Homo sapiens: one gene and its partners. The protein of the gene in region 1 interacts with the protein of each later gene in a biochemical or structural test. Each region holds a gene or a part of one and is shown on either strand. Other genes may lie near its edges.

What was found.
Region 2: the proteins of ERBB3 (region 1) and HCK form a complex in vitro, tested with the Homo sapiens proteins (2 studies listed by BioGRID and IntAct, with this or other methods).
Region 3: the proteins of ERBB3 (region 1) and NCK1 form a complex in vitro, tested with the Homo sapiens proteins (2 studies listed by BioGRID and IntAct, with this or other methods).
Region 4: the proteins of ERBB3 (region 1) and TNS2 form a complex in vitro, tested with the Homo sapiens proteins (2 studies listed by BioGRID and IntAct, with this or other methods).
Region 5: the proteins of ERBB3 (region 1) and ZAP70 form a complex in vitro, tested with the Homo sapiens proteins (2 studies listed by BioGRID and IntAct, with this or other methods).
Region 6: the proteins of ERBB3 (region 1) and NRG2 form a complex in vitro, tested with the Homo sapiens proteins (2 studies listed by BioGRID).
Region 7: the proteins of ERBB3 (region 1) and SHC3 form a complex in vitro, tested with the Homo sapiens proteins (2 studies listed by BioGRID and IntAct, with this or other methods).

The regions. Positions count from the first base shown.
Region 1 is NC_000012.12:56,086,665-56,090,740, reverse strand, and holds part of ERBB3 (receptor tyrosine-protein kinase erbB-3 isoform 1 precursor), read right to left. Parts: intron 3,165-4,076; coding exon 3,099-3,164; intron 2,947-3,098; coding exon 2,828-2,946; intron 2,721-2,827; coding exon 2,579-2,720; intron 2,199-2,578; coding exon 2,085-2,198; intron 1,994-2,084; coding exon 1,873-1,993; intron 1-1,872. UniProt on the Homo sapiens protein: Tyrosine-protein kinase that plays an essential role as cell surface receptor for neuregulins.
Region 2 is NC_000020.11:32,099,369-32,102,502, reverse strand, and holds the end of HCK (tyrosine-protein kinase HCK), read right to left. Parts: intron 1,187-3,134; coding exon 984-1,186; 3' UTR 647-983; downstream 1-646. UniProt on the Homo sapiens protein: Non-receptor tyrosine-protein kinase found in hematopoietic cells that transmits signals from cell surface receptors and plays an important role in the regulation of innate immune responses, including neutrophil, monocyte, macrophage and mast cell functions, phagocytosis, cell survival and proliferation, cell adhesion and migration.
Region 3 is NC_000003.12:136,924,306-136,928,381, forward strand, and holds part of NCK1 (SH2/SH3 adapter protein NCK1), read left to right. Parts: intron 1-3,678; 5' UTR 3,679-3,696; coding exon 3,697-3,922; intron 3,923-4,076. UniProt on the Homo sapiens protein: Adapter protein which associates with tyrosine-phosphorylated growth factor receptors, such as KDR and PDGFRB, or their cellular substrates. Maintains low levels of EIF2S1 phosphorylation by promoting its dephosphorylation by PP1.
Region 4 is NC_000012.12:53,056,285-53,060,360, forward strand, and holds part of TNS2 (tensin-2), read left to right. Parts: intron 1-659; exon of another isoform or gene 660-728; coding exon 729-812; intron 813-1,282; coding exon 1,283-1,395; intron 1,396-1,488; coding exon 1,489-1,549; intron 1,550-1,742; coding exon 1,743-1,818; intron 1,819-2,031; coding exon 2,032-2,161; intron 2,162-2,287; coding exon 2,288-2,353; intron 2,354-2,429; coding exon 2,430-2,543; coding exon of another isoform or gene 2,544-2,570; intron 2,571-2,762; coding exon 2,763-3,974; intron 3,975-4,076. UniProt on the Homo sapiens protein: Tyrosine-protein phosphatase which regulates cell motility, proliferation and muscle-response to insulin. Phosphatase activity is mediated by binding to phosphatidylinositol-3,4,5-triphosphate (PtdIns(3,4,5)P3) via the SH2 domain.
Region 5 is NC_000002.12:97,716,188-97,720,263, reverse strand, and holds part of ZAP70 (tyrosine-protein kinase ZAP-70), read right to left. Parts: intron 1-4,076. UniProt on the Homo sapiens protein: Tyrosine kinase that plays an essential role in regulation of the adaptive immune response. Regulates motility, adhesion and cytokine expression of mature T-cells, as well as thymocyte development.
Region 6 is NC_000005.10:140,036,365-140,040,440, reverse strand, and holds part of NRG2 (pro-neuregulin-2, membrane-bound isoform), read left to right. Parts: intron 1-4,076. UniProt on the Homo sapiens protein: Direct ligand for ERBB3 and ERBB4 tyrosine kinase receptors. Concomitantly recruits ERBB1 and ERBB2 coreceptors, resulting in ligand-stimulated tyrosine phosphorylation and activation of the ERBB receptors.
Region 7 is NC_000009.12:89,172,233-89,176,308, reverse strand, and holds part of SHC3 (SHC-transforming protein 3), read left to right. Parts: intron 1-4,076. UniProt on the Homo sapiens protein: Signaling adapter that couples activated growth factor receptors to signaling pathway in neurons. Involved in the signal transduction pathways of neurotrophin-activated Trk receptors in cortical neurons.

The DNA of each region.
Region 1 (4,076 bases):
AAAAACAATAGCATGTGTTTTGTGTGTGTGTGTGTGTGTGTAGAGAGAGACAGAGAGAGAGAGAAGTGATAAAGCGTATGTGGTATTTTTTTTGGCGGGGGACAGAGTCTCGCTCTTTCACCAGGCTGGAGTGCAGTGCCGCGATCTCGGCTCACTGCAACCTCTGCCTGCCAGGTTCAAGCTATTCTCCTGCCTCAGCCTCCTGAGTAACTGGGACTACAGGCGCACACCACCACGCCCAGCTAATTTTTGTATTTTTAGTAGAGATGAGGTTTCACCATGTTGGCCAGGATGGTCTCAATCTCTTGACCTCGTGATCCACACCTAGTGATCCACCTGCCTCAGCCTCCCAAAGTGCTGGGATTATAGGCATGAGCCACTGTGCCCGGCCATATGTGGTATGTTAACATTTGGAGGATCTGGGTAAAAGAGTGTATGGGGGGCCAGACGCGGTGGCTCACACTTGTAATCCCAACACTTTGGGAAGCTGGGGCGGGTGGATCACTTGAGGTCAGGAGTTCGAGACCAGCCTGGCCTACATGGTGAAACCCTGTCTCTACTAAAAATACAAAAATTAGCCGGGCATGATGGCACACACCTATAATTCCAGCTACTCAGGAGACTGAGGCAGGAGAATTGCTTGAACCCGGGAGGCAGAGGAGGCGGAGGTTGCAGTGAGCCAAGATTGCACCACTGCACTCTAGCCTGGGGAACAGAGTGAGACTTTGTCTTAAAAAAAAAAAAAAAGTATATGGGGAATTTTATACCATTCTTGCAACTTTAGTGTAGATCTAAAATTATGTCAAAATAAAAAATTAAAGGAAAAAAAAAAACAGGTGGTCATAGTGGGTTTTTTTTACACACACACACACATTTTAAATGCTGTCCTATAGACTAGAAAGTCCCTTTGTTCTTTTTGCTCCAAGGAGCAGAATGAGTGAAAACAGCTAAAAGTCATGGGGAGACAGAATTTTCTTTTCTTTTCTTTTTTTTTTTTGAGAAAGAGTCTCGCTCTGTCGCCAGGCTGGAGTGCGGTGGTGTAATCTCGGTTCACTGCAATTTCCGCCTCCTGGGTTCAAGTGATTCTCGTGCCTCAGCCTCCTGAGTAGCTGGGATTACAGGCATGTGCACCACCACACCCAGCTAATTTTTGTGTTTTTAGTAGAGATGGCATTTCACCATGTTAGCCAGGATGGTCTCGATCTGACCTCGTAATCCGCCCACCTCGGCCTCCCAAAGTGCTGGGATTATAGGCATGAGCCACCGGGCCCAGCCTGGAGACAGATTTTTATCCAAATCTAAGGAAGAACTTTTACAAAACTTTAAGAAGGAGGTTGGGTGCTGTGATCCCTAGCACTTTGGGAGGCCAAGATGGGAGGATTGCTTGAGCACAGGAGTTCGAGATCAGCCTGGGCAACATAGCAAGACCCTGTCTCTACAAAAAAATACAAAAAAATTAGTCAAGTATGATGGTGTGTGCCTATAGTCCCAGCTACTTGGGATCACTTGAGCCCAGGAGGTCGAGGCTACAGTGAGTCGAGATCACGCCACTGCACTCCAGCCTAGGTGACAGAGCAAGACCCTATCTCAAAAAAGAAAAAAGAATAAAAAAGAAAACTTTAAGAAGGAGGATATGTTGTTCCTGTCCCTTGTTCCTTGGCAGGGCGATATTGAATTGCTCAAAGATGTTCCTGAGGGGACCGAAGGCCTGGATGGAGGATGTGTTAAGCATTCTTTCAGGTCCTTTGTAACAGGCTAGAATTTTATGACTTTGATTCCTAGTCAGCTCCACATAGGAAAGTTTTGGCCAATGAAATGAACTGTGAGGGGTGCGTGGGCTGGGGTCTAAGGAGGGAAGGCAGGATCTCTAACCCATTGAGGCCGGTGATCAGAAAGTCCAGGTTGCCCAGGATCTTGGTGCAGTTCACAAATCCATCAATGTTGCTCGAGTCCACAGTCTGGAAGCGGCTCCCAGAGCCTGTTCCCTCACAGGCTGCAAATGTAAGAGAGGTTCAGTGGGGGTGGTCTGCGCAGGCTCAGAGGAAAGGCTGTCTCTTTACAACTTCTTACCATCTCCTACCCACCTTTGGGACATAGTCCCCCACAAGGCTCACACATCTTGAGCCCATTTTTATCTACTTCCATCTTGTCAGGAGGACAGGCCCTGACACAGGATGTTTGATCCACCACAAAGTTATCTAGGGAAGAGGAGGAGGACACCATTAGAGATGAGGGAGGAACATCACCAGCTACCAATGGAACCCTTGCTCTGGGCCTAGGCTCCCTCCAGCTCTGCACTGGATTTGTCCCCATCTGCCACCCTAGATCCCTTAAGTGCTGCCCTATAGATTCAAAAGTCTCTTCACTATTTGTTGCTACAAGGAGCAGAAGTAAGGGTGATAGCTGAAGTCATGGGAGGACTGGACGTAAGGGTCACTCACTGGAGTGGTTAGATGATCATAACCATTCACCAATCTCCCTATTTATCACCAACTGGATTCTTTTTCCCTTCCACAATTTTGTCTAAAATCTTGGATCTACTATTGTTGATCATTGTTCCTTCCCCTCAGACACTTACGGGGACAGCTGGCTACACAAACTCCTCCATACTGATACTTGGTGTGGGGATTGGGTTCCAGCTGGAAAGTTAGCTTGTTGTAGACAAGAGGCTGTGGACAGCGAGGTACACAGGCTCCACTGTCATTGAAGTGCCGGCAGGCCTGGGAAAAAAGGAGGCTCATCAGATTTATGTTACGTGTGTACCCCTACCTCCTCCTCAAAGGCCACATCCCAATTTCAGAACCCAGGCAATGGAAAGGGTACATACAAAGCAGTCTGTGTCCTGAGGGCCTGAGCAGCCCCCGGCACACTCATCATGGCAGCACTGGTTGGGGTTGGGCCCAAAGCAGTGACCATTACACTGAGGAGCACAGATGGTCTTGGTCACTATGGAAGGAGAGAAAGCATGGCTGTTAGGGCTCCTAGGACTGAATTCTGAGGCCACTGCTCATGCCTCCCCCACAGTGTTGACCCAGGCTTGGGGAGGAAGGGATATGAAAGCGTATGAGTGAAGTTTTTGGAGGGAATTTCAAACCCACATGTCTGGCAGTCTTCTGATCCAGGACCCCAGCATCGCCCCTTGCAAACCTCATGACAGGGGGGACCTGGTTGGGAAGGAAGGCAACACAAGGGGCCATCAGGGCTAAGAAAGGCTTGTTTTAATCAACGGGGTATGATGTCAGTACACAGGCACCTCAATCCCGGGAAGCAAAAAGCCAGGGCTGTGTCCCTCCCTGCCCTTGGAGAGCAGGGCTGGGCTCAAGTGGACCTGTCAACAAGGGGCGCGGCCACGCCTCCACACCACCCACTGGGCAGCTGAAGGGGAGGGACTGGGGCAAATGCCAACCTTAGTCCTAGTCCCAACCCAGGAACTTAGTTCCTCCTGGGCAAACTGAATATATGCAGGAATATATGCATGTGAATGGTCAGGGGAAGGTGGGCTCCAAGGAAATGGGAGTATATTCTAGTGGAACGAGTAACAGATGTGGAGTCTAAAGATCTGGCTTCCCTGCTTAGTACTCAGGGATTTTTTTTTTTTTTTTTTGAGACAGGGTCTCACTCTGTTGCCCAGGCTAGAGTACAATGGCACAATCACAGCTCACTGCAGCTGCAGCCTCCTGGGCTCAAGCAATCCTCTGCCTCAGCCTCCTGAGTAGCCGGGATTACAGGTGCGAGCCACTACGCCTGTCTGATTTTTTTAATTTTTTGTAGATTTTTTGCTATGTTACTCAGGCTGGTCTTGGACTCCTGGGCTCAAGCGATCCTCCCACCTTGGCTTCCCAAAGTGCCAGGATTATAGGCATGAGCCACCATGCTCGGCCTGCTCCTTTTCTTGAAACACCTCCTCTGTGGTTTAGATTCCAGGAGACTGGAATGGTCTGCCCTGGTGGGCTGCTGAGTCAGGGACCTGAGGTGTTTGTTCACTGGGGAGGCGGGTTCAGATCAGGAATGTAAGGATGATGGAAAGAAGGGAGTCACTCTGGTTTGGTGGGACTGGGGAGCAATCTTGATCACGG
Region 2 (3,134 bases), on another chromosome or scaffold:
AAGCAATTCTCCTGCCTCATCCTCTCCAGTAGCTAGGATTACAGGCGCCCACCACCATGCCTGGCTAATTTTTGTATTTTTAGTAGAGACGGGGTTTCACCATGTTGGCCAGGCTGGTCTCGAACTCCTGATCTCAAGTGATCACCCACCTCAGTCTCCCAAAATGCTGGAACTATAGGCATGAGCCATTATGCCCGGCCAAGTAATGTTATGCAGTTTTGTTGTCTTAAGCTACCAGATATGTGGTAATTTGTTACAGGAGCAAGAGGAAACTAATATAGCCAGTAACTATTTTAGGGCAGTTAGAAAACCTCAAGCATTGAACCCCAATTTTCTTTCCTTTCCTTTCTTTCTTCTTCTTCATCTTTTTTTTTTTTTTTTAAACAGGGTCTCACTGTGTCGCTCAGGCTAGAGTGCAGTGGCACGATCATAGCTCACTGTGGCCTCGACCTCCTGGGCTCAAGCAATCCCCCGCTCCTCGGTCTCCCAAAGCACTGGTATTATAGGTGGGAGCCACAGCACCCAGTCTGAACCCCACTTGTCTTTGTATTTCTGGTCCCCGGGAGAGTCCTTCACCATTTCTGACTTGTCATACAGCAAGAAGGCAAATAGATATTCAGGAATTGGAAGGACAGGAAAACCAACGTTTTGGTAAAGACTTTGGCATTTATATCTTTTATTTAAATATTCATTTCACTATTTTGAAAGTTTCCCTTCCAAATCACAGCTGTAACTAAAATCCAACCATTCCAGGAAATAGAAATATCAACTTGGGGGCTTCCTGAGAATGTCAGATTGTGGATTGCAAGAGTCAAAAAGAGATTTTCCAGTCCAACCTACCCACTGGACAGATGAGGAAACTGTGGCTGAAGCGAGGGTGGGTGTCTGGGAGTAGGAAGGGGGTGTGGGCCCTGGCGGATGGTGCTGGAGCCACCTTGCAGCCACCACCTGGGCACCCCCTGGCCCTGCCCTGGTCCTCCCTATCATGGCTGCTGTTGGTACTGGCTCTCTGTGGCCGTGTAGAAGTCATCCAGCACACTCTGGATGTATTCGAAGGTCGGCCGCTCCTCCGGACGGTTTTTCCAGCAGCGCATCATGATGTTGTAGAGCTCCTCTGGGCAGTTCTCTGGGCGAGGCATCCGGTATCCACGCTCCAGAGCTCGGATCACTTCAGGGTTTGACATCCCTGAAAAGGAGCCGTGGAATTAGAAACGGAAGCAGTTGGGAAATGAGAGCCCAGGGGTGGCAGGCCCTGTGGCCTCCCCAGCAGGCATCACTCCCCACCTCACCTTGCAAGCTGAGCCCCTTCCACTGTGAAAGACAGACTTCCACCCTCAGCTTCACTTGCAGCTAGGACATGGGCCTGGGACCCAGTTTGGGCCAATGGGAGCTGATGGGGAGGTCTGCTGGGAAAGTGATGGAAAGGTTTTTCCTCCCGCTTAGAGGAGAGTCTTTGGAGAACGCACCCTTCATCTCTTCCTTTGAACACTGTGAGATACTTATGATACTTGGAGCTGACAACATGGAGAAGACCATCATAGAGACAGGAACCCAGAGTCCTGACAGCTGCTGAGTTGCTGAACTAACCAGTCACCAATGGAAGATTGGGAGTAATAGATTGCTTCTATTTCAGTTACTCTTTGTCTGTTATTTTGTTGCTTGCTGTGGAACACATCCTAATGGATTCAGCGTCTATTGTGTGTTGCCTGGTTTTGACTAGTGCACCCTCAAGACAAAACATTCAGGTGGCCAGATTCAATGTTAACCTATGGGTGGGACCATTTTTTTGTTCAGTTCAAGTTTCTATTAGCTATTCATAAGAATAGCCATTCAATGTCTGTGATCCCCAATTTTATATTATTAGTCTCAAACTCCAAACTCATGAACTCAAGTGCTTCCTTTACTTGGATGTCTCTATATTTAAGTCAACTCAAATTTAGCAGAGCTAAAACAGAGCTCTCCAATTTCTATCCCTAGACCATTACCCACCCTGTGGTGCAAAGCCAGGGTAATCATCCTTTATTCTCTCTCTCTCACCTCCTAAGTCAGCAAGTCAGATCTTTTCTCCTTTTGAAACGTAGCACCAGTTCATCAACGTATGCCAGTCACGAATGCCACCACCCTGTCCAGACCATCATCACCTCTGCCTGGGCCACTGCTGTGGCCTCCTCACTGGCTGCCACCCTGTTCCCTTTCCCTCCCATTCACTCTCCATGCTGAAAGCATCGCTTAAAAATGGAAATCACCAGCCCGGCAACATAGCAATACCTTGTCTCTCAAAAAATTTAAAGAATTAGCTGGGCATGGTGGTGTGTGTCTGTAATCCCAGCATTTTGGGAGGCCAAGGCTGGAGGATCGTTTGAGCCTGGAAGTTAGAGACCAGGCTGCACAACGTAGTGAGACCAAGTCTCTACAAAAAAATTAAAAAAATAAAAAATAGCCAGACATGGTGGCATGTGCCTATGGTCCCAGATACTCGGGAGGCTGAAGCGGGAGGATCATTTGAGCCTAGGAAGTCGAGGCTGCCATGAGCTATGATTACACCACTGCACTACAGCCTCAGTGACAGAGTGAGACCTTGTCTTAAAAAAAAAAAAAAAGGTGGAGAAAGGACAAGATCTGATTTAAAGTTTAGAATTATCCTTCTGGCTGCAAGTGGAGAATAGGCTGTAGGACGAGGAGGGAGAAAGCAGTAAGACTGATGAGGATGCCGCTGCACCATCTATGGGAGATGACGCTGGCCTGGATGCAGTGGAGACTGTGGGGTTCAAAGTGGTGAGACTTGGGATATGTTTTGGAGTCGAGTGGCCAAAACCCTGTGACTGCTCAGATGTCATAGGGGTGAGGCCAGGCACAGTGGCTCACGCCTGTAATCCCAGCACTTTGGGAGGCCGAGGCAGGCGCATCACCTAAGGTCAGCAGTTCGAGACCAGCCTGGCCAACATGGTGAAACCCCGTCTCTACTAAAAATACAAAAATTAGCCAGGCATGGTGGTGGATGCTTGTAATCCCAGTTACTCAGGAGGCTGAGGCAGGAGAATCGCTTGAACCTGGGAGGCGGAGGTTGCAGTGAGCCGAGATCACGTCACTGCACTCCAGCCTGGGTGACAGAGGGAGACTCCGTCTCAAAAAAA
Region 3 (4,076 bases), on another chromosome or scaffold:
TATAGGAGATAGGGGGGATAGAGGAACACCATGAAAATATACACTAGCCAAATTCACGATGTGGGAAATGCTACAGGACAAGTGAAGCCAGCTTCTTAAATAAATGACATAGAGTGGGGAAAGAGAACAGTGTCAGAGACTTAAAACATGTTAGCTTAAGTGCAATATATCGACTTAGTTTGGATCCCAGTTCACACCAACTGTAAGAATGTTTAAAAAAATACACTTAGCAAAAATTGAATATTAGCATTAGATGAAATAAGTGTTGCAGGAGTTCTTAATAAAGGAACACCTTTTCAAAATGAGCTTTTGAAAATATACTGATAATTTAATTTTAGTATAATTGACTTGTTTGCAATCTTATATATTTTTATGCATCAGAAACATTGTGAGTAGAGGTTCTATGTTTCACCACACTGCCATTAGGCAGGAGGAGGGGAGGTCCATGGCTTAACCCATTTGTGCCTAGTGTTCCATTATTGGAACGCTAAGCTTGTGAGAGTTATTTATATCATGCTCAAGGTCGTCACCAAGGTCTGATTTTTCACACAAGAAATTGCAACCTCCGGCATATATGGGTTAAAAAAGGGAAAAGGTCAGGAGCCCTTGATTTGTTCATTTTTGAGGGGTATGGGTTTTTAATCTGTTAGTGCTTAATGAAATCATGGGATTCCAGTTCCCCCACCAAAAATTAGGGGGATAGCTGAACCACAAGGCATAATATTGATAAAATTGGGTGATAGGTATAGGATTCATTATACTATTCTCTTCTGTAAATGTTGAAAAGTGCCATAATTATAAAACTTAAAAGCATTATATAAATTTTTAGTTATTATACCAGTAATGTAGTAGAATGCTATTTTTGTACATTCTGGGGAGGACTAGATAATATTGGTAATACTTTTGTCACCCTGATAGGTAAAGTGTGGTATTTCAGTTTAGTTTTCATTTCTTTAATTATAAAGATATTCAGGATCTTTTGAATACTTTTTGACTATTTGTGTTTTCTCTTTCAGTTTTTATTTTAATTAAACTTTTTATTTTGAGATCATTATAGATCCACATGCAATTCTGAGAAACTTTAGAACTTATTGCGAGATCCAGTGTATGCTTTCCTCCAGTGGCAATACATCTGGCAGAAGTATAGTACAATATCACAATAATATTACAAAATTTCTTCATATTGCCCTTTTATAGTCATACTTACTTCCCTCCTGTTCCTGCTGCCCCGTTAACCCTGGCAACTACTAATCTGTTTCTAATTTCCATATTTTGTCATTTTGAGAGTGTTATATAAATGGAGTCATATAGTTAACCTTTGAGATTGGCTTTTTTCACTGAGCAGTTATAATTCCCTGGAGATTCATCCAGGTCGTTTTGTGCATCAATTGTTCTTTTTGGTATGAACGTACCAGTTTGTTTAATTATTTGCCTGTTGAAGGACATCTGGGTGGTTTCCGGTTTTTGACTGTTAGAAATAAAGTTGCTGTTAACATTCATGTAAAATGTGAACATAAATTTTCATTTCTCTGGGATAAATACCCAGGGGTGCAGTTGCTAGCTTGTATGGTAGTTGCATGTTTAGTTTTATGAGAAACTGTCAGACAATTTTGCGGAGTATCTGTACCATTTTACATTCTCATCAGCAGTATACGTGTGATCCAATTTCAACTTACCCTTGTCAGCATTTGGTATTACCACTCTTAGCCATTCTGACAAGCGTATGTAGTGACATCTCAGTGTGGTTTTAATTTGCATTTCTTTAATAGCTAATGATGAATACCTTTTCATCTGCTTATTTGCCATCTGTAAATCTTCAGTGAATGCCTCTTCATGTTTTTTTGCTCATTTTCTAGTTGGATTTGTTTTTCTAATGTTTCTTTAACTTTTCTAACTGCTTAAGATAGATACTCAGTTCATTAATTTATTTTTAGCTCTTTTTAAAATTTTATTTTAAATTTTATTATTATTATTATTATTATTTTTTGATACAGAGTCTCGCTCTGCGGCCCAGGCTGGAGTGCAGTGGCGCGATCTCGGCTCACTGCAAGCCCCGCCTCCCGGGTTCAAGCCATTCTCCTGCCTCAGCGTCCCAAGTAGCTGGGACTACAGGCACCCGCCACCACGCCTGTCTAATTTTTTTGTATTTTTAGTAGAGACAGGGTTTTACCGTGTTAGCCAGGATGGTCTCGATCTCCTGAACTTGTGATTCACCCGCCTCAGCCTCCTGAAGTGCTGGGATTACAGGCATGAGCCACCGCGCCCGGCCACTCTTTTTGTTTTTTAATGTTACTATTTAAAACTAAAAATCTGTCTATATACACTCCTCTTGCTACATCCCACAGAGTTCGATGTATAGTTTTTAAAATTATTTACTTCTAAGTATTTTCAAAATTCAATATGATTTCTTCTTAGATTCATTAGTTTTTAGAAGTTTCCAAACGTGGTATTTCAAAAGTTATCTTTTTGTTATGGTTGTTGGAGAATATGGTTGTAGGATATCAGTTACGTGAACATTGAGACATTCTTTATGGCCTGGCATTTGATTGCTTTTTGTATGTGTTTCATTTGTTTTCTATTTGGAAGCAATATTCTGTATATGTCTATTAAATCAGACTTGCTGGTTGTGATATGAGTTCTTCTCTAGCCTTAATAATGTTTGTATTTATTTATTTATTTTTTTGAGACCAAGTCTGGCTGTGTCACCCAGGCCTGGAGTGCAGTGGCACGATCTTGGCTAACTGCAACCTCCGCCTCCCAGGTTCAAGGGATTCTCCTGCCTCAGCCTCCTGAGTAGCTGGGATTCCAAGTGTGCGCCACCATACCTAGCTAATTTTTGTATTTTTAGTAGAGATGGGGTTTCACCATGTTGGCCAGGCTGGTCTTGCATTCCTGACCTCAGGTGATCCACCAGCCTCGGCCTCCCGAAGTGCTGGGATTACAGGTGTGTGCCACCAGGCCTGGCCGTTTTTATTTCTTTGTTTTGTTACTCTGATAATATGTTAAAAATTGTCCTCTGTGGTAATGGGTTTGTCAAGATCTCCTTGTGGTTCTGTCAACATATTTTGAAACTATCTTGTTACTAGGTACATAGAAGTTTAGATATTGTAATTGAGTAGAACATTTTTCATTGGGTAGTGAACTTTATTGCTAGTAATGGTTTTTGCCCTTTAAGTTTTGTTTGATACTAATAGAGCAACACCAGTCTCTTTATTGATTGGTTGATTGATTGATTGAGACAGATTCTCCCTCTGTCGCCAGGCTGGAGTGCAGTGGTGCGATATCGGCTCACTGCAACCTTCGCCTCCCAGGTTCAAGCTATTCCCATGCCTCAGCCTCCTGAGTAGCTGGGACTACGGGTGTGCACCATCACGCCCAGCTAATTTTTGTATTTTAGTACAGATGGGGTTTCACCATGTTGGCCAAGCTGGTCTCGAACTCAACCTCAAGTGATCTGCCTGCCTTGGCCTCCCAAAGTGCTGGGATTACAGGCATGAGCCACTGCGCACGGCCATACAGTCACAGTCTCTTTAAATTACTATTTGCCTCATGTATTTTTTTCCATATTTTTTACTTTTCATCTTTATGTCTTTAGATTTTTAGGTGTGTCTCTTTTGAAAAGCATGTGAACTAATACTACCTCAACCTTACATAAAAATATTTTCCATGTGTTTACAGTGCTGAAGCTGCTGAAAGATGGCAGAAGAAGTGGTGGTAGTAGCCAAATTTGATTATGTGGCCCAACAAGAACAAGAGTTGGACATCAAGAAGAATGAGAGATTATGGCTTCTGGATGATTCTAAGTCCTGGTGGCGAGTTCGAAATTCCATGAATAAAACAGGTTTTGTGCCTTCTAACTATGTGGAAAGGAAAAACAGTGCTCGGAAAGCATCTATTGTGAAAAACCTAAAGGATACCTTAGGTAAGATATTTTTTAAAAGAAAAGCAACTTTGTTTTAAATGAAACCTGCAACTTAGTTCTTTGTACATAATTCTGGCAGCAGTGTGCATAATTGACTTGAAAAGGCAAGGGCTAGGTAAGTTTGAGTCATAGCAGGTGGTCAACCCAGAAGACC
Region 4 (4,076 bases), 3.0 Mb from region 1:
AGGAGACGGAGGTTGCAGTGAGCCCACACGGTGCCACTGTACTCCAGCCTGGGTGACAGAGTCAGACTCCGTCTCAAAAAAAACAAAAACAAAACAAAACAAAAAACAGTGGAAATGTACTCTCTCACAGTTCTGGAGGCCAGAAGCCCCAAACCAAGCTGTCAGCAGGCCCTTGCTCCATCTGAGACTCGGGATGGAATCCTTCCTTGTCTCTTTCTAGCTTCCAGTGGTGGGCGGCAAGCCTTGGCATTCCTTGGTTTGCAGACACATCACTGTAATCGCTGCCTCTGTCATCACATGGTGTTCTCCCTGTGTGTCTCTGTCTGTGTCTCTTCCTCTCTTCTTATAAGGACACCAATCATATTGGATTCAGGGTCCACCCTCCTTCAGTATGGTCTCATCTTAACTAATTATGTCTGCAACGGCCCTATTTCCAAATAAGGTCACATTCTGAGGTACATGTCTTTTGGGGGGATATAATTCAACCCATAAGATGGTTTTGTTGCCCTGTTTTACAGATGAAAAAACTAAAGTTCAGGGAACAATTGCCTGAGGCCCAACAACTAGTAAAGTGACTGTACATGGTGCTTCTCATTCTCATTACCACTACTCTGGGCTTCTTCTAGACTTAGAGAATCATATTTCTCCTCCATCCCCTGGGGCTTAGGGATGGGAGGCCAGGATGAAGATTAATCCCTAATCCCCAACACTGGCCTTGCTATCCCCAGGGCGGACCAGGCACTGGCCACTCTTACCATGCGGAAATTCTGCGAGGACAAGGTGGCCACAGAACTGCAGCCCTCCCAGCGTCGGTGAGCAGCCTGGGTGGGGATGGGCCAGAGGAGCAGCTCCCTTCATGGCTACCAAGGCCAAGACTCTCTTATTCATGCAGCACACTTTCACTGAGTGTGCCAAGCGCCGTGCCAGGTGCTGAGAATTCAAAGTGGACAAAGCCCCTGCTCTCATGGAGCTTTCATGCTAGTAGGGTGGAAGGCAGTAGACCTGGGAATAAATAGACGAGGAGATCAGTCATAAAGAGAACCTGAAGGACAGTCAGGGCCTGCCACTATAAAGTGAAGCAGAGCTCTGGGGAAAGAGCTTTGAGGCAGAGGGGAGCAGGAGGGATTGAGGTTAGATGCAAGGAAGAACTTTCTGGTGACCCGGAAGATGGGAAGGAAGTGTTGAGCAGAAGAGCGAGCCTTCTAAGGGTGGATGGTTGAAATGATACAAGGTGACCTCCAGAGGAAAAGGCTTATGTTCTCCTTGACACGCCCTCCACCAGATATATCAGCTACTTCAGTGGGCTGCTATCTGGCTCCATCAGAATGAACAGCAGCCCTCTCTTCCTGCACTATGTGCTCATCCCCATGCTGCCAGCCTTTGAACCTGGCACAGGTGAGTCTGCCTGAGATGTGCTCCCTAGGGAGAACCACCTTCAGGCCCTCTCCACTCAGCACCCCTCCTGTGCCTTCTCCTCTGCCCCTCCAGGCTTCCAGCCCTTCCTTAAAATCTACCAGTCCATGCAGCTTGTCTACACATCTGGAGTCTAGTGAGTGCTCTATTCCCAGGCCCCTGACACTTCATGACCAGGGCCCCTCTTGCTCCTGCATTCCTGCTTCTCCAGCCTCCCTAGACACCTGGGCAGGGCTCAGACTCTGGTCTCCTGGCTCCCCCTGACTGCATAGCTGCCTCTGCACGCAGGAGCTTCTGGTTCATCTCTGCCTTCTCCTCTCTCCCCACAGTCACATTGCAGGCCCTGGTCCCCAGCAGCTTTGCATCAGCCTGGAGCCAGCCCTCCTCCTCAAAGGCGATGTCATGGTGAGGGGGGTCCTGTCAACAAGAAGAATCCTGGAGATGGGGCAGGGGTTGGTGGTGTAACGGCACAGTCACCAATTTGAGACAGATTGGAGAGCGAGTAGGGAGATCACCTTGAGATCGAGGCAGGGCAGAAGCTGTGACCAGGCAGTCCCCAGGGTGGAAGCGCAGAAGAGGACATGAGGCCTGATCCGCAGCCTCCTGCCTTTCTCCCAGGTAACATGTTATCACAAGGGTGGCCGGGGCACAGACCGGACCCTCGTGTTCCGAGTCCAGTTCCACACCTGCACCATCCACGGACCACAGCTCACTTTCCCCAAGGACCAGCTTGACGAGGCCTGGACTGGTGAGTCTGAGACAAGTGGCCTGGGGCTGGAGTCCAGGTGGCAGGCAGGTGGCAGGCAGGTGGCAGGCAGGCAGGAGAGTGTGGTATGGGCCAGGGGCCTGGTTCTTCACTGTCCACTCCCCATAGATGAGAGGTTCCCCTTCCAAGCCTCCGTGGAGTTTGTCTTCTCCTCCAGCCCCGAGAAGATCAAAGGTAAGAGCAGGGACATGGGCTGGGGACTGAGGGCCGCCTCTCCCCTGCTCCCCAATACCCGAGTGGCCTTCCACAGGCAGCACTCCACGGAACGACCCCTCGGTCTCTGTCGACTACAACACCACTGAGCCAGCCGTGCGCTGGGACTCCTATGAGAACTTCAACCAGCACCACGAGGACAGTGTGGATGGTGCGCAGGCAGCCTGCAGGGTGGGAGGTACAGGGTTGTGGCGGGACCCTGGGGGGTGGTGCCAGGGAGAAGCACACTCCCTCCTCCCCAGGCAGAGCCCACTCCCGAGAGACACCCCCGGCCCGACAGCTGTCTCCAGTGCCATCCCCTCTCATGAATTTTCTCTCTCCCTCCCTGTTCCCCGCTTGCCCTCCCTCCCTGATCCTCTTCCCCACTCAGGCTCCTTGACCCACACCCGGGGTCCCCTGGATGGCAGTCCTTATGCCCAGGTGCAGCGGCCTCCCCGGCAGACCCCCCCGGCACCCTCTCCAGAGCCTCCACCACCCCCCATGCTCTCTGTCAGCAGCGACTCAGGCCATTCCTCCACGCTGACCACAGAGCCGGCTGCTGAGTCCCCTGGCCGGCCGCCCCCTACAGCTGCTGAACGGCAGGAGCTGGATCGCCTCCTAGGAGGCTGCGGAGTGGCCAGTGGGGGCCGGGGAGCTGGGCGCGAGACGGCCATCCTAGATGACGAAGAGCAGCCCACTGTGGGCGGAGGCCCCCACCTCGGAGTGTATCCAGGCCATAGGCCTGGCCTCAGCCGCCACTGCTCCTGCCGCCAGGGCTACCGGGAGCCCTGCGGGGTTCCCAATGGGGGCTACTACCGGCCAGAGGGAACCCTGGAGAGGAGGCGACTGGCCTACGGGGGCTATGAGGGATCCCCCCAGGGCTACGCCGAGGCCTCGATGGAGAAGAGGCGCCTCTGCCGATCGCTGTCAGAGGGGCTATACCCCTACCCACCTGAGATGGGGAAACCAGCCACTGGGGACTTTGGCTACCGCGCCCCAGGCTACCGGGAGGTGGTCATCCTGGAGGACCCTGGGCTGCCTGCCCTATACCCATGCCCAGCCTGCGAGGAGAAGCTGGCGCTGCCTACAGCAGCCTTGTATGGACTGCGGCTGGAGAGGGAGGCTGGAGAAGGGTGGGCAAGTGAGGCTGGCAAGCCTCTCCTGCACCCAGTGCGGCCTGGGCACCCGCTGCCTCTGCTCTTGCCTGCCTGTGGGCATCACCATGCCCCGATGCCTGACTACAGCTGCCTGAAGCCACCCAAGGCAGGCGAGGAAGGGCACGAGGGCTGCTCCTACACCATGTGCCCCGAAGGCAGGTATGGGCATCCAGGGTACCCTGCCCTGGTGACATACAGCTATGGAGGAGCAGTTCCCAGTTACTGCCCAGCATATGGCCGTGTGCCTCATAGCTGTGGCTCTCCAGGAGAGGGCAGAGGGTATCCCAGCCCTGGTGCCCACTCCCCACGGGCTGGCTCCATTTCCCCGGGCAGCCCGCCCTATCCACAATCTAGGAAGCTGAGCTACGAGATCCCTACGGAGGAGGGAGGGGACAGGTACCCATTGCCTGGGCACCTGGCCTCAGCAGGACCTTTGGCATCTGCAGGTGAGGGGCACCAGAGTGCGGAGTGCCCAGGGCAGAGGAGGTTCTGGAAGATGGTGGGGAAGTCAAGGGGGAACAGGGTGAGAAACAGCTAAGCCAGACAGA
Region 5 (4,076 bases), on another chromosome or scaffold:
AGAGCAAAACTCCATCTCAAAACAAAACAAAACAAAACAAAACAAAAAAACCCATGAAGGCTCCTAGGTATTCACTCTAAAGAAATGGAAATTTACATTCACACAAAAACCTACACAGGAACATTTATAGCCGTACTAGCCACAGTTGCCAAAAATTAGGAATAACTTACATGTTTCCCAACAGATGAATAAGATACACTGTGGGACATGCCTACAGTGGAATTCTACTCCGCGGTAAGTGGAACAGCATACGGAGACACGCAGTTCCGCAAACGCATCGCAAAGGCCTCAGGCTGGATGAAAGAAACCAGGTTCCAAGGGCTACGAATTGTGTGATTCCACACACAACTATAGGGACGGAAAACGCACCAGAGGTTGCTGGGTGCTGGGGGCCGGAGAAGGAGTGACGACAGAGGGCAGGACGGAATTTGGGGGAATAGTCTGTATCTTGATTGATGTGGTGGTAGTCTCTGGGCTGTATGCATTTGTCAAATCTCAGAATTTTTCACTAAAATGATATAAAAATTTTATTGCATGTAAATTATACCCCAAATTTTTAATTAAGGGGGAAAGGAACTGGAAGATACAGACACAATGGACACTAAAAATGCTAATGAAAATAGGAAAAGTGATTAAGGGCTGTCTACACTCCTGTCCCTATGTCCTTGACTCCCAGCCTCTCAGCCAGACCTGGTCTGCGCCCCCCCCCCAGGCTGTTCTCCAGCACTGATAGCACCCCTGGCAGTCTGTAGGCACCAGACAAGCACTCTGTGACCTCCTCAATCCTGGGCCCCCTGAATGGCCGACACCTATGACTCCTCCCTCCTGCTTGAGCCCCACAGACCTCTCTGGTCCTTCACAAACTCCCTGGCTTGCCTCTGCCCTCTGACCATCCTGCTCACTCTCCTTCCCCCACCCCCGTCCCCTTACTTGGGTCATCCTGTCAGTAGCTGTACATGCTGCCACACCCACCTCTCCCAGAGCCCAGATCTCTCGCCCGACTGAGGTCGGTTGGTGCTGGCATCATCTCCTTTGATCTCCACCAACTGTTTCCATTAATACAACCAACCTAAGATCCAGATGGCATGCTCATGCTGCCTGTGGCTGGCTGAACCTCACAGTCTATTTCCACAGAGCTGAGCCCCAGAGTCTGCAAGTTGCTCCTTGGCAATTCTTCCCCAAGGCCTCCCTTGCTCAAGACCCTAATGGCTACTGCATTGGATCTCCCCAGCCCTCTGCCCCAGCTGAGCTGTGCTACTTGCCTTCCTTCAAATGGATGTTCATACTTTCATCCACACAGCACCCTCCACCTAGTGCACCCTTCCCTCTCCCCTCCATCTTCTCCAACCCAGCCAGCCCATCCTTGAAGACTCATGGAGCCACTCCCATAAAGCATGAGGATGCAGGATGAGGCAGAAAACTGAGGGCTTGTCCAAGGACCATGGGTGCAGAGTAGCAAAGCTGGTCTCTGGGGCAGGAAGCTGTGGCAGGAAACTGTCGCCAACACAGTTTGAGAAGCTCCTCCCCACGTGGCCGCAGGTGCAGCCTGGGTAGCTAGAAGTGGGTTAGGGCAGAAGAGGAGATGAGGGAGGCTCAGTGCCCAGCCCAGGGCTGCCATCCATGACCCGAGGCTAAGGAGTCCCAGAGGCAGGCTCTCTTCCTGTGCATCTCGGCTGCGTCCCAGCTTCCCTGTCCCACTGCCCACAAGGACAACGGTAATCACAAGCACCACCCCACACACACAGGTCGGGTGGTGGGCGCCTCCTCTTCCACCCCTGGGGCCTTTCTGGACTGTCCTCACTAGTAAAACATGGGGCCCAAGTTCCCAGGGACCCCATGGCCAGAGATGCTGGGGAGGCCAGAGAAGGTGGGCAGAGGTGGCAGAGATGAAAAGTCCGGGGGCAAGAGGTGGGAGCATTTGCCACGCAGCGGCTAGCCGGAGTGTCTGCTGTCAGTGAGCTGCACCGATCTAGAGCTCCCCGGGGTGACCCCAGACCCCAGGCAGGGGATCAAATGTTTCTGTTCTCAGCTGTGTCCCTGCAGACTCGTGGCCCTCCCAGAAGACACACCCACCATGAGACCCACCCCAGCCCTCGACCTGCCTGGGCCATCCCGACGGACAGGACTTGGGTTAGGAGCCGCGTCCCTCAGTCCCCAGTGAGCCTGTTCATTCCCCAAGCCTGGCCTATGGTTCTCCCTAGGCTGACCCCAGTCAGCTTCCTCTTGAGCTCACAGTTCAGAGATCCTAGTTTGGCCTTCCCAGAACTTACAGCCCCTGGATCACAGCACAGAGATCACAGCAGAGCAGCCACGGGGCACCTGCCCCACACTCACAGCCCAGGCCCTGGGAGGATGATGGGAGGAAGCCTTGGAGCCTGGTCAGAAGGACCTGCCTGGAATCCCACCATTCACCCAGCCTCCCTGGGTAAAGGCAGTGCTAGATTACAGCTGTTCCAGAGAGATCAGATTCCCCAAACATGCTTCAAAGGAAAAAAGAGTCAAGGGGTCAAATACAGTTTCAAATGCTGTGAAAAGCACATTAAAGGCTCCGAGAAGACCACATGGAAGGACCTCTTTCAGCGTCACTTAATTCCCACACCTATTCAGCAAAGCCTTGAAGGTCTACTGTTTCACAGAACATTCCCTGGGCATCAGAAGCCCCCATTACATGCCCATCGTCAGAGCAGAGGTATCACACCAAAGCCACTGGACCTGGTGGGAGCGGGCAGGAGCAGCACAAGCTCCACATGTCCCCCCAGCCAGAGGCTCCACGTGTCCCCCCAGCCAGAGGCTCAGAGGCTCCTCGTGTCCCCCCAGCCAGAGGCTCCACATGTCACCCCAGCCAGAGGCTCAGAGGCTCCGCATGTCCCCCCAGCCAGAGGCTCCGCATGTCTCCCCAGCCAGAGGCTCCGCATGTCCCCCCAGCCAGAGGCTTGACATGTCCCCATCCAAGGCTCTGCAGGAGCAGGGCCCCAGCCCCTCACCGCCCCACCTCCTCCTACTGCCCCCCCACCACCCTGTTCCCACTCCAGCTCCTGGCTCTCTCTCTCTGAACCCCTAGTCCTCACCTGAGACCCTAAGTCCCTCTGAAGCCATGTTCCCTGCTCCTTAATCCCCCAGCTGTGCTCGGGCCGCCTGTGCCCACCAACAGAGGCAGCATAGGCACTGGTCGTCAGCACACGCCAGCTTGGTGACGCCATGAGCCACACAGCCGCAGTTAGCCATGGCTGCAGGCTCCTCCTTCATATGTCTTTCCTGACTGCAGGGATTGGATTCAAATCATGGAATCGTGGACCCACCACATGGTCACAGTGCAGCCTCAGCAGCGAGTGAAGCTCGCCAGACCTCCTCCGGAAAGCAGGGCCAGTGAAGGTGTCCAGCACTGGGGCTGCAGGGACTCCCTGGGGTGAGACTTGCTGGCCCCCGTCATGCCATCACATCCTCTTCTCTGCTTGAAGCCCTCTAGGCTCCCACCTCACTCGGGGTGAAAATGCAAGTCCTCAGGGTGGCCCCCAAGGCCCTTCATGATGCCCATCACCACCCCCCGCCACTCACTCCCCTCCAGCCACACGGGCCTCCTCATGTTATTCGTTCAGGTCCCTCGGACAAACCAGGCATGGTGCAGCCTCAGGGCCTTTGTACTGTCTGTTCCCTCTGCCTGGAGACTCTTCCTCCAACACCTTCCACTTTATTCAGGTCTCTGCCTAAGTCACCTCCTCCAGGAGGCCTTCCCTGACCTCCCTCTCCAAAATAGCCTCTCCTTCTCTCTCTAGCCCTGACCCAGCTTTGTTGTTCTTCACCACCTAAAAGATGATATTGTATCTATTGGTGACATAGTACCTTTGTCCCTGCCAGAATGTAAGCACCACGGGAGTGGAGCCTTTGTCTTGTTCTCCTACCTATACCAGCATGGCACAGAGGAGGTGCTCAATATACCAGGTACCTACAAAGGTCTGCAGTCCACTGGGATGGGTGGGGATGCCTCTGAGCACCGGTGGAACCTGACACCTGGGAAGGGGTGAGGGGCCACAGGGGCTTCCTTGGGTGGAGGATGGCGGGAGAGGAGGGGCCCATCC
Region 6 (4,076 bases), on another chromosome or scaffold:
GCTTAACAGTTGAATGCAGAAATCATGAAAGATTTGAGGGGCAGAAATATGGTCTGTTTCTAGGTTATGATCATCTCATATTATCAAAATAGCATGTGTAGTATAGTTCTTAAAAAGATACATTTAGAACTGCAATCACTGGTAAAGGAAGGGCCCTCACATATCACAAATTATCAAGGATCAGGAATGTGTATGGCAGTAAACATTTTAGAATGCAAAAAAAAATTGCTTTGAATTGATATTCAAAGGGAAGTATATAAATAGGTACCATTTTGGGGAGCCTTATATAAGGGGATTAGAAATTAAAGGACATATTTGTGAGACTTGTGGAATTGGTGATAATATAACAGAAGAGCATAAACTGCATTTTCTTGTTTTCTACTATGTGGTTAAAGAAAACATGTACTGGTAATGCTATATTAAATAAGGAAACAAAATCATCCTAACTAACCACAACACTGTCCTTGTGCTTAGCAGGAAATAACTAACAAATTCATTTTCTGTTTTCTATTCTAAAGAAAGCCCTCTGGGCCACAGGGTCATTGGGAACATTTTCTCCTTGGAGCAGATTTGCCCATTGCAAAATAGGGAAACTGGCACTTGGAAACTGTCGTCATGGCCGTTACATTGAGCAACTGAGGTTGCATTGTTGCTTTGTTTAGCTAGTTTCAGGTCTGAGTGTGTGTAGGTTCTGAGAGGTGTGGTTCTCTGGGAAGTCACCTAGAAAGCCCGTGGGTTTTTTTTTGGAGGGGGGCAAAATATGGAGGGATAATATTGTGTTTAAAAATTGGCCTCAGGAGCATCAATGCAGGAGGTCACACTGGACCTCTTCTTATCAGTCCTCATAAATGGCTCGTTTCCACCATGAAATGTTGACTTGAAGTCTGTGATCTAAGGTGGGGAAAGGTAGACAGGGGTCTTTCTGGAAGAGCAAGACCTGCCAGAGTGATATTTTTACATATCTAATGTGTATCATTTATCCAGAAAGAGTACATCTGGTGATAGAGTTGAGTAAAATCTTTGCATTTCTTAGAAGATTGCATTGTATGGAGGGAGGTGTTTTCTGTGCCTTCTGTGGAAAGGCGAGGAAAAAGAGTTAGAAAGGCCTTGCAGGGATTAGCAATTCTGTACAATGTTATAAAAACATCATGTTCTGCAAATAGTCCTGCATTTTAAAAGATGGTTGCATATATTTTGGTATAATTACACCCTATCTTGTTGTTTTCTTATATTCATGTTTTTAAGCAGTTTCCTTATTGAATAGATGCAGTAAATAGCATAAAAAATGAAGATCATTTCTTTCTTTGGGATTTCCTGATTAGCAGTTTTCCAGTGTATAGTGTACTTTGTTGCTACAAGGAAAGGTGTATTCCTAAGGATTTTTACATTCTTTAGGATAGTTTTAAATTAATGTGGCACCCAGATTCACATATTAGAGAAAGGTGGTTCACAAAATTCAGTATAGCAAAAGCGACTACATATTTTTTAAATGCTGTTTATTTAAAGAATCTTTTCTTCCCCAGCCAGCTGGAAACCCAGCTGTGCTGCAGCTTGAAGATGGGAAAGTGAAACTAGATTAGAAACTGACCAGTCCTAGTGATGAGGACAAGGCATGGTTGTAGATTTAACGATTGAATTACCACCCTAATGTCATTATTTCTTGTAGTGGCTGCTTTCCTCGGCAGACTGCATTCTTGGGGTAGGAACAATAGCTTATCTTTGAGGTCTTCTTTCTCCTAGTTCTCCTGCCCTGCCGCGTTTCGTACTTTGCCTGGTTTATAGAAGGACTCTCCATCAGTGTCATTTGAATGGATAAAGTCAAGTGAAGTTAAAGAAAGCCTCCAGATTAAAACTAAAACAATCTTAACTCTCTGACCTGTGACATCAAGTCCTGTGCTGAAAAGCTGAGTTTGATGATAGCCTTTACCTGTCGCTATGGGAACCTTTCTTCCGAAAGAATCATTATCAACTAGAGTACTTAACCACAATGTGCTTAATCATTGTGCTGATTAGTGTTAATGGGATTTGAGCACTGGAGAATAAAGATCTTGCTGGAAAAGACCCTCTTATTTTTTTTTCTTTTGGAAGGTAGATTACTACTTGCCCACCCCCAAATTTAAACAAAAATAAAACAACCGTCGGTTTGAATTAACAAACAGTTTGAGAGCTAGGGATGGTGGTATATTAACAATCTAGGTGACTAACTTCCTCTCGGCCCCTAATCAAAGCAAGTGTGCTTCCCCTTTACTATCCTGTTTTATCTAGGGCATTTTAATTTTATTTCCTAATATCAATTAGTTTTTTCTTTATAAAATTATATTTATATTTTTGGAGCTGTAGCACATTTATATGGCTCAAAATTCAGAAAATACATAAAAATATATGATGAAAAGTTTCCTTCTTAATCCCTGTTCTCAGCTACCCCGCTTTAAGGCTCTGTGGTAAAATATTCAGGAATAATTTATTCTTGAAGTGTGTGTTTCTCTAAAAACACAATGTTTTTCAAAGCAGTCTTTTTTTTTTTTTTTTTTTTGAGATGGAGTCTTGCTCTGTCGCCCAGGCTAGAGTGCAGTGGCACATTCTCAGCTCACTGCAACCTCCGTCTCCCTGGTTCAAGCAATTCTCCTGCCTCAGCCTCCTGAGTAGCTGGGATTACAGGCACCCGCCACCGCGCCCGATTAATTTTTGTATTTTTAGTAGAGACGGGTTTTCACCATCTTGGCCTGGCTGGCCTCGAACTCCTGACCTCGTGATCCACCCGCCTTGGCCCCCCAAAGTGCTTGGATTACAGGCGTGAGCCACCGCGCCCGGCCCAAAGTAGTCTTAAATTTTCTTTCAACAGAGGGAGAATGTTAATTTTGCCATTAAGCCAATTTTGTGGTAAATTCTTCCCAGGTAATACATATTTTCTTAACCTGGCCCAAGATCTTATCTACCTAGTTCCAGTGATCTCTGAGTCCTCTATCTCAAGTATCTATTAAAGGATCCTCTTTTCTCCTCAATACCTTACCTCACAAATATAATTCTGGACTCAGGAATGAAAATACCAACTTATTTTTCAGATACTTTGCCGTTAAGTTTTCCCTGACAATACATTGTATAAGTCTTAACTGGGATGCTCAAAGGAGAGATCCAAAGGTTTATCACTGAGATTTAGGGCTGCATCTCAACCCATACAGCAATTCTTATTGTTTCACACGCTTGGTGATCTCACAGTAGAGTCCATGTGGGAGATCACATGATTTCACAGACAAAAAGAGAAAACTCCACAGTGCATGATTGCTTTGATTTTCATTCAGAAGACAGAGACCGCAGTTGTCAATGAAGAGTTTGATTTTGACCATATTCATGCACAGCTGGTACAATCCCAGGGAATTTAGCTACCTGAATACTGTTCTGAAGTACGTTTAAAGTAACTGATTGGAACATAGTGTTAAAATTTCAGAGGATCAGGGAATTGCCATTTGGATACATAGGAAAAAAGTAAATATGCAAATATCAAAGCAGCAGAAGTCTTAACCCTCTAAGCGCTGTTTGCTTAGTGGCATTTGGCAATTTTGAAAATTTGTGAAAGGAATGGTGATATCAGTATCATTGAAGTTTCCCCAGTGCAGTTTTCAACAACTTGTTCTTAGATCTTTCTTTGCAAGATCTGAAGTGCTGTTAGTATAATTTGCACTAAAAGTAAAAGAAATTTCCCCCAAATTTTGTGTTTGGATGGATGGGTGTATATGGTGTGGGGATTTCTGTCTTACTTGTTGCTAGCAAATTAACCCTCTCCTCCCACTTACTTTTTCGAATTTGTACATAGAAATAAGTCCAGTTTATGAATTTCAAGAGATGATACAGGCAACTCTTTAGGAAACTAGGGAAAGTAGATGAATTAATCGGTAGAAGTGCTAAATTATGACAAGTTTGAACAATGACTTTTATATTTAATTAAAGTAGACTTCTTTAAAAACAGTAATACACGCAGATGAATCTTGCTGAACTAGAGCTCCATGTCAGGTTGTAAGAACTGAAGCACACATAGAGGACGATTAAAAGGTATTAGGATGACATGAAAGGACATTCTG
Region 7 (4,076 bases), on another chromosome or scaffold:
TAATGATGAATGTACGAAAATAAGACGGCTCTGCGTCGACAATCTGTTGCTGTAAGGTTTGTGACTTACTGGCAGCATCAGCAGTAGTATTCATAGTCAAAGGGCTGGATCTGCACAGAGCTTGTCTGTGTCTTGGGGTTACTTTGTGTTGCCTCAAATTTAAGGGGTTGCAGTGATGGGTTGAGGGGTGCATGGCATGACTAATTAGGGCTCTGTACCATCCATGTTTTGGTTCCTTGTTCATTAGCAGCCATGAATGGTGCTGTGATGTGAACATAAACGCAGGCATTGTCCTCTGCTGTCCTGGAGAAGTTTGAAATCACGCAGAAAGAAAACCAGATGCTAAAGTGTGTGTGCATGTTTGATTCAAATTATCACATGGCCCTCTGTTGGCGCACATGTGCAAATTCCCGCATTGCCCATGTTGAGTTTAAAACCTCGAACTTATTTTATTGAAAAATTGTTAAACTGAAAACAATCTTAATTTGGCGTTATTTAGAATTTTTGAATAGTTCTACCGGTATCCTTACTTTAAAAGATTTCTGGTAGATAGAAATGGGCCATCTTTATCATATGACTAGATACCAATAGTAAAATATAAAGGTTTAGGGTTTGGGAAAGGATGCATTATTCTCTTTGATATAATTTTTTTCTAAATTAAAAATAAAGCCCCCAAATGTTTTCTAGTTTCCTGGAAAATTTATATACTGTATTATAGATTTTCCCCCTCAAAGAAATACCTACTTACAGGTGATATTAGGATATTGCACATATGAATTATAATTCAAAAATATTTCAACTTAATCTGAGAACAGGGACTGTAAAATACAGAAGTCTGGTGAATTTTGATCATCTAGGAAACATTAAACTATTTGAGCAACAGCTTAGAATGTGAATTAATGAAGGACTTAAAATTTAAACATGGAAGAAGTTCCTGAGCAACAGTAGAATTCAAAGCTCAAAGCATGTCTAATTGGTCCATCATTGAGTTTGCTGCTAAATAACAGAATGGGGCTATGCACACAGAAAGGCTGCAGCTTACTCTGCCTAGAGGTTTATATTCTTTTCAGCTGGGCCTCATTGGCAGCACCTTTTTACTCCCCTAAGTATCTTGACATTTCCTTTTTTCTTTTGGTGACGTAAAAGAAAGAACAAGGAACTATGCTCTTGATAGAAAAGAAAAATCCAACAGCAAAGAACAATGACTATTTTCATTAAATTTCCATTTTAAAAGTATTTGATATTTGGACCTAAAAGAAATACCAATGAGTATTGATTACGGTGCTGCCCACCTTTAAATTATCTTATCCTAAAGTCAAGCCTGGGTAGGACCCCAATCACTCAAGGAGGCTGCTGGTCTTTAGCAGGTTCAAAAGGCAATATCCTGGTCCTCCACCTTCTCTGTCCTCAGATCCACGGTGGGGAAACTGTAGGAAGGAATATGAACAGTGCAGGGGACAGGAGGCAGGGGTTCAGTTTTTAAAGAGCCAGTGGGCCATCTGAAGACAAGCACAGCCTTGACATTCAGCTCTGAAACTGCCTGCTGGAGGGGCGAGGCTGGAGCAGGAAGCAATGCTGTGTGGGCTGCACCGGGTTTGCCTTTGGCCCCAGCGTGGTCCCCAAAAGACGGGCTCCTTCTTAGAGCACATCACAGCACAGACTTCAAAAGGATAAGAAGTGACCATATTTAGAAATGACCCAAGTGCCAAGGGCAAGAATCAGGAGGCCCAATGTAAAAGCAATGGTTTTAGGTGCCCACTGCTCAGAGCTATTCCAACAGCGTCAGCATTCAGTGAGCCAGCAGATTACGCCATTCATAAACACCTGTGAAGGCTCCAGCGAAGTTACATAGGTTTCAGCTTGTGGAGTGTTGTATATTTACTGACAGTGAAAATGGCGAGCTATTTATAGGAGATTTAACGATCAGAAAAGTACTGCATTATTTCCTGATACACTGGACCCTTCCTGATATGCTTCCCTTTTGGAACAAAGCTCTGTTTTTACAAGGACTCTTTAAAAATTATTTTATTACTCCCATTTGTGCATCTAATGATATTTGGGGTGGTATAAATCATTTGCTTTATTTGTAAATGCTCTACTGCCTTTTATAGGTGGTCTTCGTAAATTACATTTACTCAAAAATTTATTCTTAATTTTTTTCACTTGACAAAGTGTATAAAAATATCTTAAATTTTCATTTTCTCAGAGCTGTATTCTTTTGGTAACTGTGAGCAAAGATCATACAAAAGTTATTTTAACTATATTAAAATAACTATATCAATTCTACTATAATATTGTAGAATTTTATTTTACCTCTAGACTGAAAAATTGATTTTGATGTGGAGTTGAACTTTAAAAAGTTGATTTTTTTCTCAAAATTCTTTCGAAATCTTATGATATGGATGGCTTACACGTAAATATCTAAATGGTTTGAAAAATAGTTTAAGAATTTCTTTTGACATTAATATATAAAGTTATTAATTTGATCTGGATAGTGAGTTGTCTCTTTTTATGTGACACAAACATAGATGTGTTAAAGGCACACACACACCACACACATATACACAAACCACACACACACCTCACATATACACACACATATGCACATACACACCATGCACCCACACACAACCATACAGACACTGCACACACACAACACACACACCCCACAGCCCACAGGTAGATGACTTGTGATGACTTTGGATGGGGGCTGTTTTCTTTCTTGTTAGAAAATAGGAAATGTCATATTTCTAGAAATACCCAATTATCTCAGTCATTTCTTTTATATTCATGTTTAAGAAAAAGATAAGCTACGACAAAACTTCCATCCTATAAAGAACAGATGGCTGCTTCTCTGCCTCCGCACGGTGTCTTACCTTTGAGTATATGTCATAGTTTTGAGGAATATATGATTACTATCATTAAAGCAGAGTCCTGGGAACAGAAAGCCTGGGCAGCAAACACGTGAACCCACTTGCAAGACTGGCTTTCCAGCCAACAGGCTGGCCCTGCAGGATGTGCCGGTGCTGCTGGCCTGCAGTGCCTGGCTTAGGGTAGGGGACATTAGAGCAGACACCTGGCCTGGTGAAGGTCCTGGACTGGTGAAAGGCAGGACACCTGGGCTGCAGCTCCACCGCCAGCTTAGTGTGGGGCTAGAGCAGTCAGCTCACCTCTCTGGACCTGGCTGTCCCTGGCTGCAGCAAGTTGAAGGCAGGGTTGTGCTGGGGTTGGTCTCTATGGGTTGGAGGCCTGGCCGAGGCAGAAATGGTGGCATCTGTATTGTTTTTTGCACCAGCATCTAATGTAATTGGAAGAGACGGGCCCAGGGAAGCACACTGCAGTATCAGGAGTGTGCTCACCTGATGGACACCTGCTGGATCACTGGGGCCAGGGCCAGACCCTGCAGTACAAGGATCCAAGTCCATGGTGGGGCTCAGAGGAAAGCAACAAGGAAGAGCCAGCATGTTCAATGAAAATACCCAAGGGCAGTAGAGTTAGTGAATTATTTAATTCATAAATAAAATGGTTTCAGATGCAATGGAAAGAAATGACCAGTTATGTGTGTTTCCTGGGTAAAGGACAAGAAAACAATTTTGCAATTTATCATAAGAGTTCTATAGTATGTGGTGGAAAAATAATATCTTTAAGGTGGGAGGCAGTGAGCATAGGAACAGCCTACTGAGTGGGTGGATGTTGACCATCGTGTGTGTGTGTGTCTGTGTGTGTGTGTGTCTGTGTGTGTGTGTCTGTGTGTGTCTGTGTCTTCGTGTGTGTGTGTGTCTGTGTCTGTGTGTGTGTGATGGGGTGTGGGGATGTGCAGCTGCACAATATGCCTTACAAGTTGGTTTTGGTCTTACAAGTTCATAATTACTCATTTTCTGTTGAGTTAAAAAACAAAACAAAACATTTTGACCCCACTGTGATTTTGCCTCTCCCCTCCCAACCAAAACAACAACAGTGTGACAAGGATCCACTGAGGGTCCACTGGGAGTAATTAATCCATGTCTCCCAGTGCTAGAATTGGTGAATTTTCCCTGAGTGGCCACGTCAGAGTTGCAGAGCAGTCACGGTTATAA